Linked DNA regions of Homo sapiens. The protein of the gene in region 2 purifies or fractionates together with the protein of the main gene of each other region. This does not show direct contact. Each region holds a gene or a part of one and is shown on either strand. Other genes may lie near its edges.

Region 1 (4,706 bases), on a different chromosome or scaffold from region 2:
TCTTTCCCCTGGACCTTAAACTCTGATTCCAGTCAGTCTCATATGACTTCTGCTACATTTCCCCACAGTTTCAATCTTTTTTTTTGAGACAGAGTCTTGCTCTGTTGCCCAGGCTGGAGTGCAGTGGTGTGATCTGGGCTCACTGCAACCTTCACCTCCCAGGTTCAAGCAATTCTCCTGCCTCAGCCTCCCAAGTAGCTGGGACTACAGGCACCCACCACCACACCCAGCTAATTTTTGTATTTTTTAGTAGAGATGGGGTTTCACTATGTTGGCCAGGCTGGTCTCAAACTCCTGACCTCGGGTGATCCACCCACCTCAGTCTCCCAAAGTGCTGGGATTACAGGCATGACCCCGGCCCACAGTTTCAATCTTTTAATACCTTAAATATTTAAGTTACTAAAATAGCTAAGAAAAATTGTTCATTTTAAGTGCTAATTATTCCCTTTTCTTTTTTCTATTATTAAATATGTATTTTATGAATAAAAAGTTAATGTTTTTAACTAGGAATTAAAATGTACTTCTGATTTTTAGGTTTGTTTTGTGCCAGTTGTCATTTTTCATACACACACACACACACACACACACACACACACGCACACACCCCACCATCAACACCACCACCACCGTCGTTTCTGTAAACCAATCAACAGTGGAGACACTAGAGACTATTATATGAAAACTGTTTATTCTATAGCCTACTGGGAATTGGCCAGAAGTTAGAAGGACATTGGAAATGACTTTTAAATCTCCATTTGAGAAAAAGCATGCCATGAGTCTAAATAACCAATTTCATTTAGCAAACAAAATACAAGTAAACAAAACACAACTTCTCTGATGAATGAAGTGGTTACCATATTTTTTCCCATTGTGTAAAGATAGTTCTCATATGAAATATATCACCTAAGCAGTAGTAATCAGAATATTCTGCAAACTTATTGGGGGTAATTTAAACCCCAAATCGGAAGAATAGAATAAAAGACATAAAAGTCTTTCTTCAAAAGAAAAACAAAACAAAACAAAAAACAATACCCCTTCGGTGTCAAATGATACAGAAATGGCACTGGTTTCCTATATGTTGACTGAGATACTTTTTACTGCATAGCAAATTAAAAAGATATGCTCATCCCACTTTTATTTTTATGCACTACTTTTAGTTCTGCAGAAATAAAAGCTATACTGAATTTAAAACTTTTTACACACATAATCCTGTGCAAACTATGTAATACTTTGTTTGTAGGATATTAACCCAACTTTCTAATATATTTTGTATATGTCTCTTTTTGTTTATTTGAGACAAAGTCTCACTCTGTCACCCAGGCTGGAGTGCAGTGGTGCAATCACAGCTCACTGCAGCTTCGACCTCCTGGGCACAGGTGATCTCACTTCAGCTTCCCGAGTAGCTGGGACCACAGGCGTGCACCACCAGGCCTGGCTAACTTTTTGTATTTTTTTTTTTTTTTTTGTAGAGACGAGGTTTTACCATGTTGCCCATGTGGGATATTTTGTATACATTTCAAAAGGCAACTACAAAAATTGGTTTTTCATATTTCTACAAATATTTTATGGAATGTTTAATATCTTGTAAATGTGGAAGCTGTGACAAATTTTTGTATTTAGAAAGTATGACAATCTGAAAATCAACATTTTACAGAAGTGACACCATTCTGTTGAAACTGGAGTATACTGCACTTATATATCATTATTTCTAATATACACCTAGTTATTAGAGAAATTAGTGCACTAAAGGACAGTGGTGGTTTTTAAAAATGATTTCTTCACTGTGGCAAGTTTGTCCTCCTCTGTCCAAAGCAACAATTGAACCAACAGGCCCTTCTAATCTTATGCCAGCAACACAATGGGATCGAGGCCAGGTTCTTGTGCAATTTGTGAAACCTTTGGTTTGCAGAGTTGTTAGCGTAGTGGCTCGGCTCATCAGCTCTGAGCATTTGAATATCTAATGTTTCAAACTGTTAGTCCTGTTCTGATTTATATTCATCCCTGCCATTCCTATTAACTTAATTACACCTGCCCACAACTTAATTTACTTGCCTTTGTTACTACAGTTTGAACTCCAGCTACATTTTTCTAAGAAATTAAATTGCTAGGTTTTTATAGCTGACTGCACTCTTAGAACTTCTCTACAGACTTTATGATCTTTTTGGACTTTACTTTTTAGCACATCTTAGGAACTATTATGAAGTTTTCTCGCAGCACACTTGAAGTTAAATAGCTTTTTCCAAGTTTAATACAGTTTGATGGCTCTTCTCGGGGTGTAGATGAGTGGGGGCACTTACATTGCCCGTTGGAGGAGACTCTGCCTTCTGCTCAGCCAAAAATCAGTGTGAATCCCTTTGACTGTTCCATCTTTCCCCATATCAAACCTAAATTATTGATCTTCCACCTGTTCTCATTTCTTCTGTCCTGTCTCTTGTTGAGTCACAACAGCTGTTCCCCATGCTCTGCGTGGTAACATTCCACATGGTACTCCATAAAAGCCTGATATAGATGACCTCTCTATAACAGAACTGCAATTATTCTTGTCATGCTTCAGTTGTTTCTGTGGCTCTCCTCTGGACTCTCTCCAAATTCTCCTGCTCAGTTTTAGCAAGCTGGCCTGGAGTTCTCTCACACGGTCTGGCTAGCACAGTAATTTGCTTGTGGTTAAAAGCCTTTGTGCTCAGTACTGAGACTGCCACATAATGAATTTTCATTTCCATTTTATTCTGAACTTGCAAACATCAGAGATTCGTGCTATCTTCAGTGTTTAAGTGGTAATGCCTTTTGTAAAATAAAGGAGGCTGCAGGCCAGGCACCGTGGCTCATGCCTGTAATCCCAAAGCTTTGTGAGGTGGAGGCGGGCAGATCACTTGAGGTCAGGAGTTCGAGACCAGCCTGGCCAACATGGCGAAACCCCATCTCTGCTAAAAATAGAAAAATTAGCCAGGCGTGATGGTGCATGCCTGTAATCTCAGCTACTTGGGAGTTGAGGAATGAGCACTGTTTGAACCCAGGAGACGGAGGTTGCAGTGAGCAGAGCCGAGATCGCACCACTGCACTCTAGTCGGGGTGACAGAGTGAGACTCCATCTCAAAAATTAAAAAAAAAAAAAAAAAAAGCCTGTGGTTATTTTGATGGGATAGCAAGGATAACATGAACCATGTAAGGTTTGGCATAAATAGTTCATAGTTGACCTGGTCTGTCTGACTGTCTGAGATGTCACTGAGTCATTTGATGACCTTGAAATGCTAAAGCATTGGAATGAATGTCTGTAGATCAGGACAGAGGTGGGTTCAGAGAACTATTTAGGAGACATCTGGGTGGGAGTTGTGGCCAACACTGATTACAGGTGAGCACTGGGGAAAAAAGCCAGGATTGCAAGGAGTTAAAGATCACCCATTCAAGAAGTTTGGCAGAAGGAGCAAGACAGGAAATTTATTCATTTAGTGGCAGTCAGAGGTAACAATATAAGAAAAGCATTCTGAGTCTTCTTTTAGGCAAACTGAAATTTGCCATTAGAGAAGGGAGTTCTTTGTTTTTCGTTTGTTTTAGGGACTATTTAAAAAATAAGAACATTTGTGTCTTATTAGTTAAGGCAGCACTATCCAATAGAATTTTCTGTGATGATGGAAACAGTCTACATCTGTGCTATCTGGTATGGTGCTATAAGCCACATGTAGCTATTTAAATTTAAATTTAATTAGTGTGGCTACTGAGCAATTGAAATGTGGCTAGTATATCTGAGTTGAATTTTGATTAATTAAAATTAAAATTTAAATTTAAATAGCTACATGTGGCTAGAGGCTACTGCATTAGACAGCTCAGAGTTCGAGTTTTACTAACTAGACTTGCAGATTAATCTCAAAATATTAATGTCTTAAAACAATAAAAGTGTATTATTCAACTATCACATCCAAACCAATTGGTGCTAGGGTGTAGGGAGGGGAGCATTCTGCTCTGCCTAGTCATTTGGAACACTGGCTCCTTCTATCTTGTGTGGTGCCATCTTCAACCTTGAAGGGTGCATGTTGGAGGGGAAGAGATAGAATATGAAGAATCTCTTGAGAAGTGTTATGGGCCATGTCTGGAAATGGCCTACATTACTTCAACCCATATACCCATATTCTAATAGTTACAAATAAATGACATGGCTCTACCTAACTGCAGGCTGAAAGAAAAGGAACAAGGTTTATGGACACATAACATTACCCTGCCACAATGAAATTTGTAGAGGTCTGGGATCAGTCTCTAATACCTCCTCCATAAGGAAATGGAAATAAATTTTAATCAGTGTGCTAAGGGAGTAAATCTGGTACAGTTCTGGATGTGAGGAAGAGACTGAAGGATCAAAGTGGGGCAATGGGGGTTCAACATGGGGCAGGGATCAGGAGGAAGAGATGGAATAAATAATAGAGGACAGAAAACAGTTGGTATTTGCTGATGGAGAACCACTTCTCGGAAAGAGAAACAAAAAGAAAGTGTGAGAATAGAAATTTTGAGGTGAAAAGGAGAGAAATTCAAGGTTCTTAGATTGAATCACTTTGTCTGCTCTGAGGTTATTTGCTTATTATGACAAGCCTGGGAAGACGTTTGGGTAGGTGCTTAAAATTAGAAGAAAAGACCCGAACAGGTACTGTAAAGAGTGCCTTGGGCATGCGCTGTAGAATTTGGAAGGCATTTGTTTCAGACTAATCTGGTAATCCAGA
Region 2 (7,744 bases):
TCCCATTCCCACATCAGTAAACTTTTAAATTGTCTCTGGGGGCAAGGGACAAAAGAGAATAATGTAGTTAAAGCCAGAAACATTTCATCTATTGCATTTTCTGTGTGTGTGTGTGTGTGTGTGTGTGCGTGTGTGAGAGACACAGGGTCTCACTCTGTCGCCCAGGCTGGAGTGCAGTGGCACGACCTGGGCTCACTGCAACCTCTGCCTCCCAGGTTCAAGCAATTCTCCTGCCTCAGCCTCCCCAGTAGCTGGGATTACAGGCATGTGCCACCACACCTGGCTAATTTTTTGTATTTTTAGTAGAGGCAGTGTCTCACCATGTTGGCCAGGCTGGTCTCAAACTCCTGACCTCAAGTGATCCACCCGCCCCGGCCTTAATGCTTTATTTTTAGTCAACATATTTAATTTATGTTGAAACTTCAAAACGGAGAACAGATTTTTTCTATTTATCAAAAAAGAGCCTGGGTTTAACAACAAGTTGAAAAACAATGCTAGCAGATCTGTGATCTTTTTATCTGTGCCTTCTCCTTATTTGACATTTTTTAACCCAACACCTACTGATGAATATCAATTATATGTCAGGCAATAAGGATAACAACTAAAACCATACAACTCCTGCCCTTGAGAAGCAAACGGTACACTGGGAAAGACAGAAAATATGAAAGACATGATAAGTACCATGGGAAACTTGCATAGCAACACAAAGAGGAAATCCTCTCCAGTAATATCAGGATACAGCACAGAAGAGCTGGCACTTCAGCCATGCCTTGAGCCCCAGAACCTATGTATGTGACCTTATTTGGGAAAAGAGGCTTTGCAGATGTAATTAAGTTAAGGATCTTGAGAAAAAATCGTCCCATCCAGGGCTAAATATTTGAGGAGAAAAATGATACCGAGACAGAGAGGGAAGAAAACCACAGATATTGGAGTGATGCATCTACAAGTCAAAAAACAGCAAGAGCCACCAGAAGAGGCAAGAAAGGTTTCTCCCCTAAACCTTCAGAGGGAGCAGGGCCCTGCCAACACCTTAATTTCAGACTGATGGCCTCCAGCACTGTGAGAGAATACATTTCTGTTAATGATAAGCCACCAGGTTCATGGTAGTGTGTTACGGCAGCTATGGGAAACTAATACAGTGAATGAGTGAGAAGGACTCTAACAGGTAGCACCAAAGAAAGAACGTTCTGGGTGGAGGGAACAATATAAGTCAGGTAGTACATATTTGGAATCTAACACACAATCTAGTGTGATTGAAGCACAGAACAAGAGTTGTGGAACCAAGGCAGAAAATTAAGGGCCAACTTATAAAGTACTGACTTTCCTATGGTAAGGCTGGGCCTGGAAAATCAGGCTGTTCTTTCCAAGAAGAGATATGGAAGATGAACTATAGGGGCAGAACTAGAAGCCAAAAAAATCAAATGAGGAGATTAAAGCGCGGAAGACAAAAGAAAAGGGGCAGCTAGGCACGGTGGCTCACGCCTATAATCGCAGCAGTTTGGGATGCAGAGGTGGGTGGATCACTTGAGGTCAAGAGTTCGAGACCAGCCTGGCCAACATGGTAAAACCCTCTCTCTACTAAAAATACAAAAATTAGCCTGGGCATGGTGGCTCACACTTGTAATCCCAGCACTGTGGGAGGCCAAGGCGGGCAGATCACAAGGTCAGGAGTTCGAGACCAGCCTGACCAACATGGTGAAACCCCATCTCTACTAAAAATACAAAAATTAGCCAGGCATGGTGGCACGCTCCTGTAATACCAGCCAGCTACTCAGGAGGCTGAGGCAGGAGAATCACTTGAACCCGGGAGGCAGAGGTTGCAGTGAGCTGAGATGGCAACATTGCACTCCAGCCTGGGCGACAGAGCGAGACTCTGTCTTAAAACAAAACAAACACAAAAATTAGCTGGGTGTGGTGGTGCACACCTGTAGTCGCAGCTACTCAGGAGGCTGAGGCAGGAGAATTGCTTGAACCAGGGACGGGGAGGTTGCAGTGAGCCGAGATCGCGCCACTGCACTCCAGCCTGGGCGACAGAGCAAGAAGAAACAAAGAGGAAGGAAGGGAGGGGAAAAAAAAAAAAAGAAAAGGGGCAGCTAAAAGTGGTATTCCAGAAATGCAATGAATAAGATTTGATGACAGTTGATGTAGCCTCAGGACAGACTCAGAACCCCTGGAACTTTTCTGCATAGACAGCTGACATGATCTCTCAACTCCTGGGCTCCCAATGGGAAGGAACAAATGTCCAAATACCAATGGTGGTTGCCCTGGAGTTAATATAATTGCATAGCATGTGGGGAGAAGGGCTTAATAAACATTTGGTCATTTGATTTTAAATGGCACATGGACAAGTGGCAAGAGGGCACACATACCAATGATGGCCACTTTGTTCTCCTTCATGGAACTCAGCACCTGCTCCAGCTTCTCCTCAGATGCCATATTCTGCACCTCACTCAGGTGGTGCTCCTGGAACTCCACTGGGACAGCGGCAGCCTTCAGAGACAGGTTCCCAAAACATCACAGTCAAGGCCAAGTCCTTTCCAACACACTACTGTCCTCTACTGTCTGATCCCCGAGGCCACTCACCTTGAACACCTCCTTGACGGCGTGCATCAGCTCAGGCCCCACACCGTCTCCCGGAAGCATGGTCACGGGAAAGGAGCCCTCCACCCTCACGTCCTCGGCCTCAATTGGGGGAAGAGGGGAGAAGTAAAGATAGAGCTGGGGCGGGAGCACGGATCCTGGGAGTAGAGAAGTAGGGAGACCCGGGAGGGGTGGGGAAAAGCCAGGGGAGGGAGCAGCGAGGAAGGGACAGGGTCGTAAGAGAGACCCCAGCCAGATTCGTGCATACCTGGCTCCGCGATGCAGCGTGCGCCGCGGCCGAGGTACTCAGACCTCTCCATGCCCCAGGGTTCCCGGCGGAGACCAGCGCCTGCAACAGGGACACACAAGCCTGTAAGGTCAGCTTTGAGACATCCAGACCCCGAACACTACAGTTGACTTTGCCCTGTTTAGGAAACCCTAGGACAAACTCTCCGCTCCTTCGCCCGCCCCTGCCCGACATGTCCCGGGGCCTCACTCGGGTCAGCCAGCGGACTCCGCTCAATGCCGCCATGTTTCCCGCAGGAAGTCGCGTGGGAAGTGACGCCTGAAGCTGGCGCGGCCCCGTACCCCGACTTCCGGCCTGTACTGAGTTCCTGGTATTTCTCTCTCTGCGCCAACCAGCACTGCTTGCTCACGCCTGTTTCTCCTTTTCCTTGCCGGTGGGGAGGTCATGGGATGCGCAAGCACTTTGTCTCTTGCTTTGTTTTCAGTCGCCATATTTAATCTACGTCGAAACTTCAAAATAACATTAGGGGGAAAAATGTAGCGTCATGTTTATCAGACGAGGACCTGAGCTTAACAAGCGATTGAGAGAAAATCCTTGGGAAGCTGTTAAAATTTGTGTGTCAATGCGTTTGTTATTCTTTTAACCAGTACTCACTGAATACCTGTATGTCAGGCTCTCGAGGAATACAGTACAGACATGGGAGGTGTGTGTCGGGTTTCTCCGCCAGTCTCCGAGAGTGCCCAGGACCTCTGTATTACCCGTCGCCTCGTAGTTTTTTCTTACAGGGTTTTGTTCTTTGCTCTGACAGTTATTTCCCTAATAGTGTGTCCCGGACTTGAACTCCCCAGGACAGGCCCATAACTAGTGTCAGAAATGAGTTCAAGCGTGTAAGTGTGACTAAAGGGAATTTCAGACTGATCCTTAAAGTAACAATCATAAAAACTAAAAAAAGCCTGGACAACATAGGGAGACCTCGACTCTACAAAAAATTTAAAAATTAGCCAGGCGTGGTGACACACCTGTAGTCCCAGCTACTTAGGAGGCTGAGGTGGGAGGATCACTTAAGCCCGGGAGGTGGAAGCCGTAGTGAGCCGTGATGGCACCACTGCACTCCAGCCTGGGAGACGGGGCGAGACCCGTCTCAAAACAATTACAGTCACGATTTTTTTTTTTTTTTTTTTGAGACAGAGTCTCGCTCTGTCGCCCAGGCTGGAGTGCGGTGGTGCGATCTCGGCTCACTGCAAGCTCCGCCTCCTGGGTTCACCCCATTCTCCTGCCTCAGCCTCCCGAGTAGCGCCCGCCATCACACCTGGCTAATTTTTTTTTTTTTTTTTTTTTTTTTTTGTATTTTTAGTGGAGACGGGGTTTCACCGTGGTCTCGATCTCCTGACGTCGTGATCCGCCCGCCTCGGCCTCCCAAAGTGCTGGGATTACAGGCGTGAGCCACCAAGCCCGGCCTCCAGTCACGATTTTAGGTGTGTACAATTGACACACCTAAAGACAAACTGGTACAGGAAGATTTGCCTCACCCGCTCTTCTGGAAGTATGGTTTTGGATCACCTATCCAGATGGACCAGAGCTCTTGTTAAAAGTGCAGGCTTGTGAGTCATACTTCATTTGCTGAATCCAAATCTCAGTGATGGGGGCCCAGAAAATATATCTCTAACAGGCTCCCCGTTAATACACACTGAAATTTAAGAACCACTAGCTAGGTTCTCTGTGATAAGTTCCTCCTTCGTATATACCTCAACCAGCCAAAAAGGTGGCAACGCAAAGGCATTCCCAGTGCTTCTATTCTTGGGGAATATGCATAGGCTTTGTGCCTCCTCTGCAATCCTTTAGGTGCGACATTCTCCTATATAGTAGTAGGATGAGAAGATTAAACTAGGTAATGTGTAAGAGTTTTGAACAAATGAAAAGTACTGGGTAAATATAGAGCTGTTATTATAGCTAATATAATATTAGTATAACACACTCCTCTATTTCCATTCATATATCCCATGAAACCAACCAAAACCAGAGAGCACCACCGTCTTGCTCCCATAGACTCCCTCGTCCCAGCTTCCACATCACTATTAATATTCGTCACTATTTTTCTTCTCCAAATATTTCTCCTTCTGACTAAGAAAAAAATGGAAGATTTATAACCTCTGCCTCCCGGGTTCAAGCGATTTTCCTGCCTCCGCCTCCCTGGTAGCTGGGATTACAGGCACGCGCCACCACACCCGGCTAATTTTTGTATTTTTATTAGAGACAGGGTTTCACCATGTTGGCCAGGCTGGTCTTGAGCTCCTGACCTCAGGTGATCTGCCACCCTCAGCCTCCCAAAGTGCTGGGATTACAGGCATGAGCCACCGCACCCCGCCAAATTTACTCTTTTTAAAAAACTACATTTTCTGTTACGTCAGGAAATGTGGGATAAGAAAGAAGAGAGATGTACCATCTTAATCCAATCTCTGATAATAATCTAATTTTCTTGAGGGTGACTACATCATTTCCATCCCTAAATTCTGCACAGACTTGTTCCCCACCTAACACTCAAAAAATATCTGCTAACTGATAAAACACTAAGTGGCCATCACCAGGGTGAAAGGAACTGATGGAGGTTACCAGTGGACACAGGCCAAGGAGATGAGACCATTATTGTCTGAAGGCCACTGTGTTCTCCCCATGAACTCAGCAAGCTCTCCTGGCCTTCAAGTCCCCATGAGGGCATCTTTGACCAATACTGCCTGATAATGGAGAAATCCTGTCAGGACCTTTGAAAAGTTTCTTAACCTATCTCCTGGGGGATGGGAGGGAGGTTATACCATCTTGTTCTCTTCTAACTGTTGTGGAGTCTCCTCTGCTTAGCACAAGAGGCTATAATGATGGATGAGCTGCCTACACTTGAGTGTTCAGTGTGAAGCTGAGTGACTTGAATGTCTGCTTCCCAGGCCTGCAAATCCTCCAGCACAGGAGTCCTGACTTGGGATCTACAGAACCCCCTAGGTGTCCATGAATAGGAATCAGCACTGTGAACCTGGATGGGGGAAAAACCAAAAATCACATCTTTATTCTCACTAACCTCTAACTGAAGTTTAGCATTTCCTTTCATTATGAATGCAGGTCACAGATTACAGTGCTGCCTGTAGTACTCTTGACTTTGTCAATCATAAAAAGTATAGATATTTTCATACCACATTTTAGTTGTAGTAGATCTCTCAAAATATCACTTACTTTAATCCTATTTTTACATTATTTGACCCAATGCTAGATTGTGTTATTTAATGAATTAATAAAGCAGCAAACATAGTAGTATGTTACAAGGTAGCTTTTATTCCTTTTCTCCTTTTAGAGAGATGGTTTCAGTCTGTTCCCCAGGCTAGGGTGTGATCACGGCTCACTGTAACCTCAAACTCCTGGGCTCAGGTGATCCTCCCACCTCAGCCTCCCAAGTAGCTGGGACTACAGGCATGCGCCACCATGCCTAGCTAATTTTTAAATATTTTGTAGACATGAGGTCTTGCTATGTCGCCCAGGCTTGTCTTAATCATATTTGTCTTGTAATTCTATTTATTTTATATACTTAAAAGTCTCTTTTTTTTTTTTTTTTTGGAGACAGAGTCGCTCTGTTGCCCAGGCTGAAGAGCAGTGGGCGATCTCAGCTGAGTGCAAGCTCCACCTCCCGGGTTCACACCATTCTCCTGCCTCAGCCTCCGGAGTAGCTGGGACTACAGGCGCCCGCCACCACGCCCAGCTAATCTTTTTGTATTTTTAGTAGAGACAGGGTTTCACCGTGTTAGCCAGGATAGTCTCGATCTCTTGACCTCGTGATCCACCCGCCTCGGCCTCCCAAAGTGCTGGGATTACAGGCATGAGCCACTGCACCCGGCCTAAAAGCCTCTTCTAAGAAAGGTTCCACAGGCTTCACCAGCCTTCCAAAGAGGTCCGCTGCACACAAAAGTTTCAGAATTTCTGGTGTATTAGGCCTACTGGATCTTTTTCTGAAACCATGAACAATCAAAAGAGTAATATAACCAATGACAATTCCTTGAAAATTAACGTCTGAAAAAGCTTCTTGGGAGAATTTGATCTGTGATTGAAAGGATAAACAGAATTACAGAGGAGAAGTGATTACACTCAGGGAAAATGGAAATGTAAGCAAAGCTACTGTTTCAGATCAACTGCCCTAGAAGCAGAGCCCAAGACAGGGATTCTATGCAATTGACCTGTTGAAGGAGTGCTCTCAGGAGAAACACATCAGAAGGTGAATGAGCAGAATATGGAGGGGAAGGAGCTCAGCAAGATGTGGCCTCAGCCAGAGTCCACCTCAGCCCCATCTCCTGGGGAGCTCTGGAGCATTAGTGACAACTCAAGGTTGTCATGATTTGAGACAAGGCTTAACAACCCTGCTTTGCCCCTGCATGGCATAGGCCAGGGCCAATCCTTCAGAGAAGGGGGAAGCTTTGAGCCGTTAGTGGCAAATACCTGAAGCAACTGGGGGAATGGATACACCAGCTTGCCAAGAGGACCTGGCCAAGGCAGACACTACCTTGCGGAGGTGACAGTGAACATAGCGTGCTGACGAACAGTGAGGTGGGCAGATATATTTGAGGAGATGAGTTATAGTGAGGATTGGTGAGTAAGTAGGACTGGTGCATGTTCAAGGTCCGAGAGAAACAGAGAGAGTTTTGTGAGCAATACTAAGCACCCTGTTGAGGTTGGTGACCATGAAGTTTATTGTGGTGCAATTGTGTGTGATTTCACGGTGAGAGCAAACCAAAAGTGAGTTCATCCAAAAGTGATATTTTGCTAGAGAGTGGTACAAGGGAGTTGAGAGTGTTGGCAAAATGGGATCAGGAGGCAAGTGAAGACAGAAGAGATCTAATCAACAGGCAGCTGAGGAAAGAATCAAAGACCCCCCCAAAATATTCA

What was found.
Region 1: the proteins of IDH3B (region 2) and DBT purify together in Homo sapiens (affinity purification with mass spectrometry; 3 studies listed by BioGRID and IntAct, with this or other methods). This does not show direct contact.

Annotation. Positions count from the first base shown.
Region 1 is NC_000001.11:100,186,253-100,190,958, forward strand, and holds the end of DBT (lipoamide acyltransferase component of branched-chain alpha-keto acid dehydrogenase complex, mitochondrial isoform 1 precursor), read right to left. Parts: 3' UTR 667-4,706; downstream 1-666. UniProt on the Homo sapiens protein: The branched-chain alpha-keto dehydrogenase complex catalyzes the overall conversion of alpha-keto acids to acyl-CoA and CO(2).
Region 2 is NC_000020.11:2,661,077-2,668,820, forward strand, and holds the start of IDH3B (isocitrate dehydrogenase [NAD] subunit beta, mitochondrial isoform a precursor), read right to left. Parts: upstream 3,141-7,744; 5' UTR 3,113-3,140; coding exon 3,077-3,112; intron 2,930-3,076; coding exon 2,849-2,929; intron 2,683-2,848; coding exon 2,584-2,682; intron 2,491-2,583; coding exon 2,370-2,490; intron 1-2,369. UniProt on the Homo sapiens protein: Plays a structural role to facilitate the assembly and ensure the full activity of the enzyme catalyzing the decarboxylation of isocitrate (ICT) into alpha-ketoglutarate.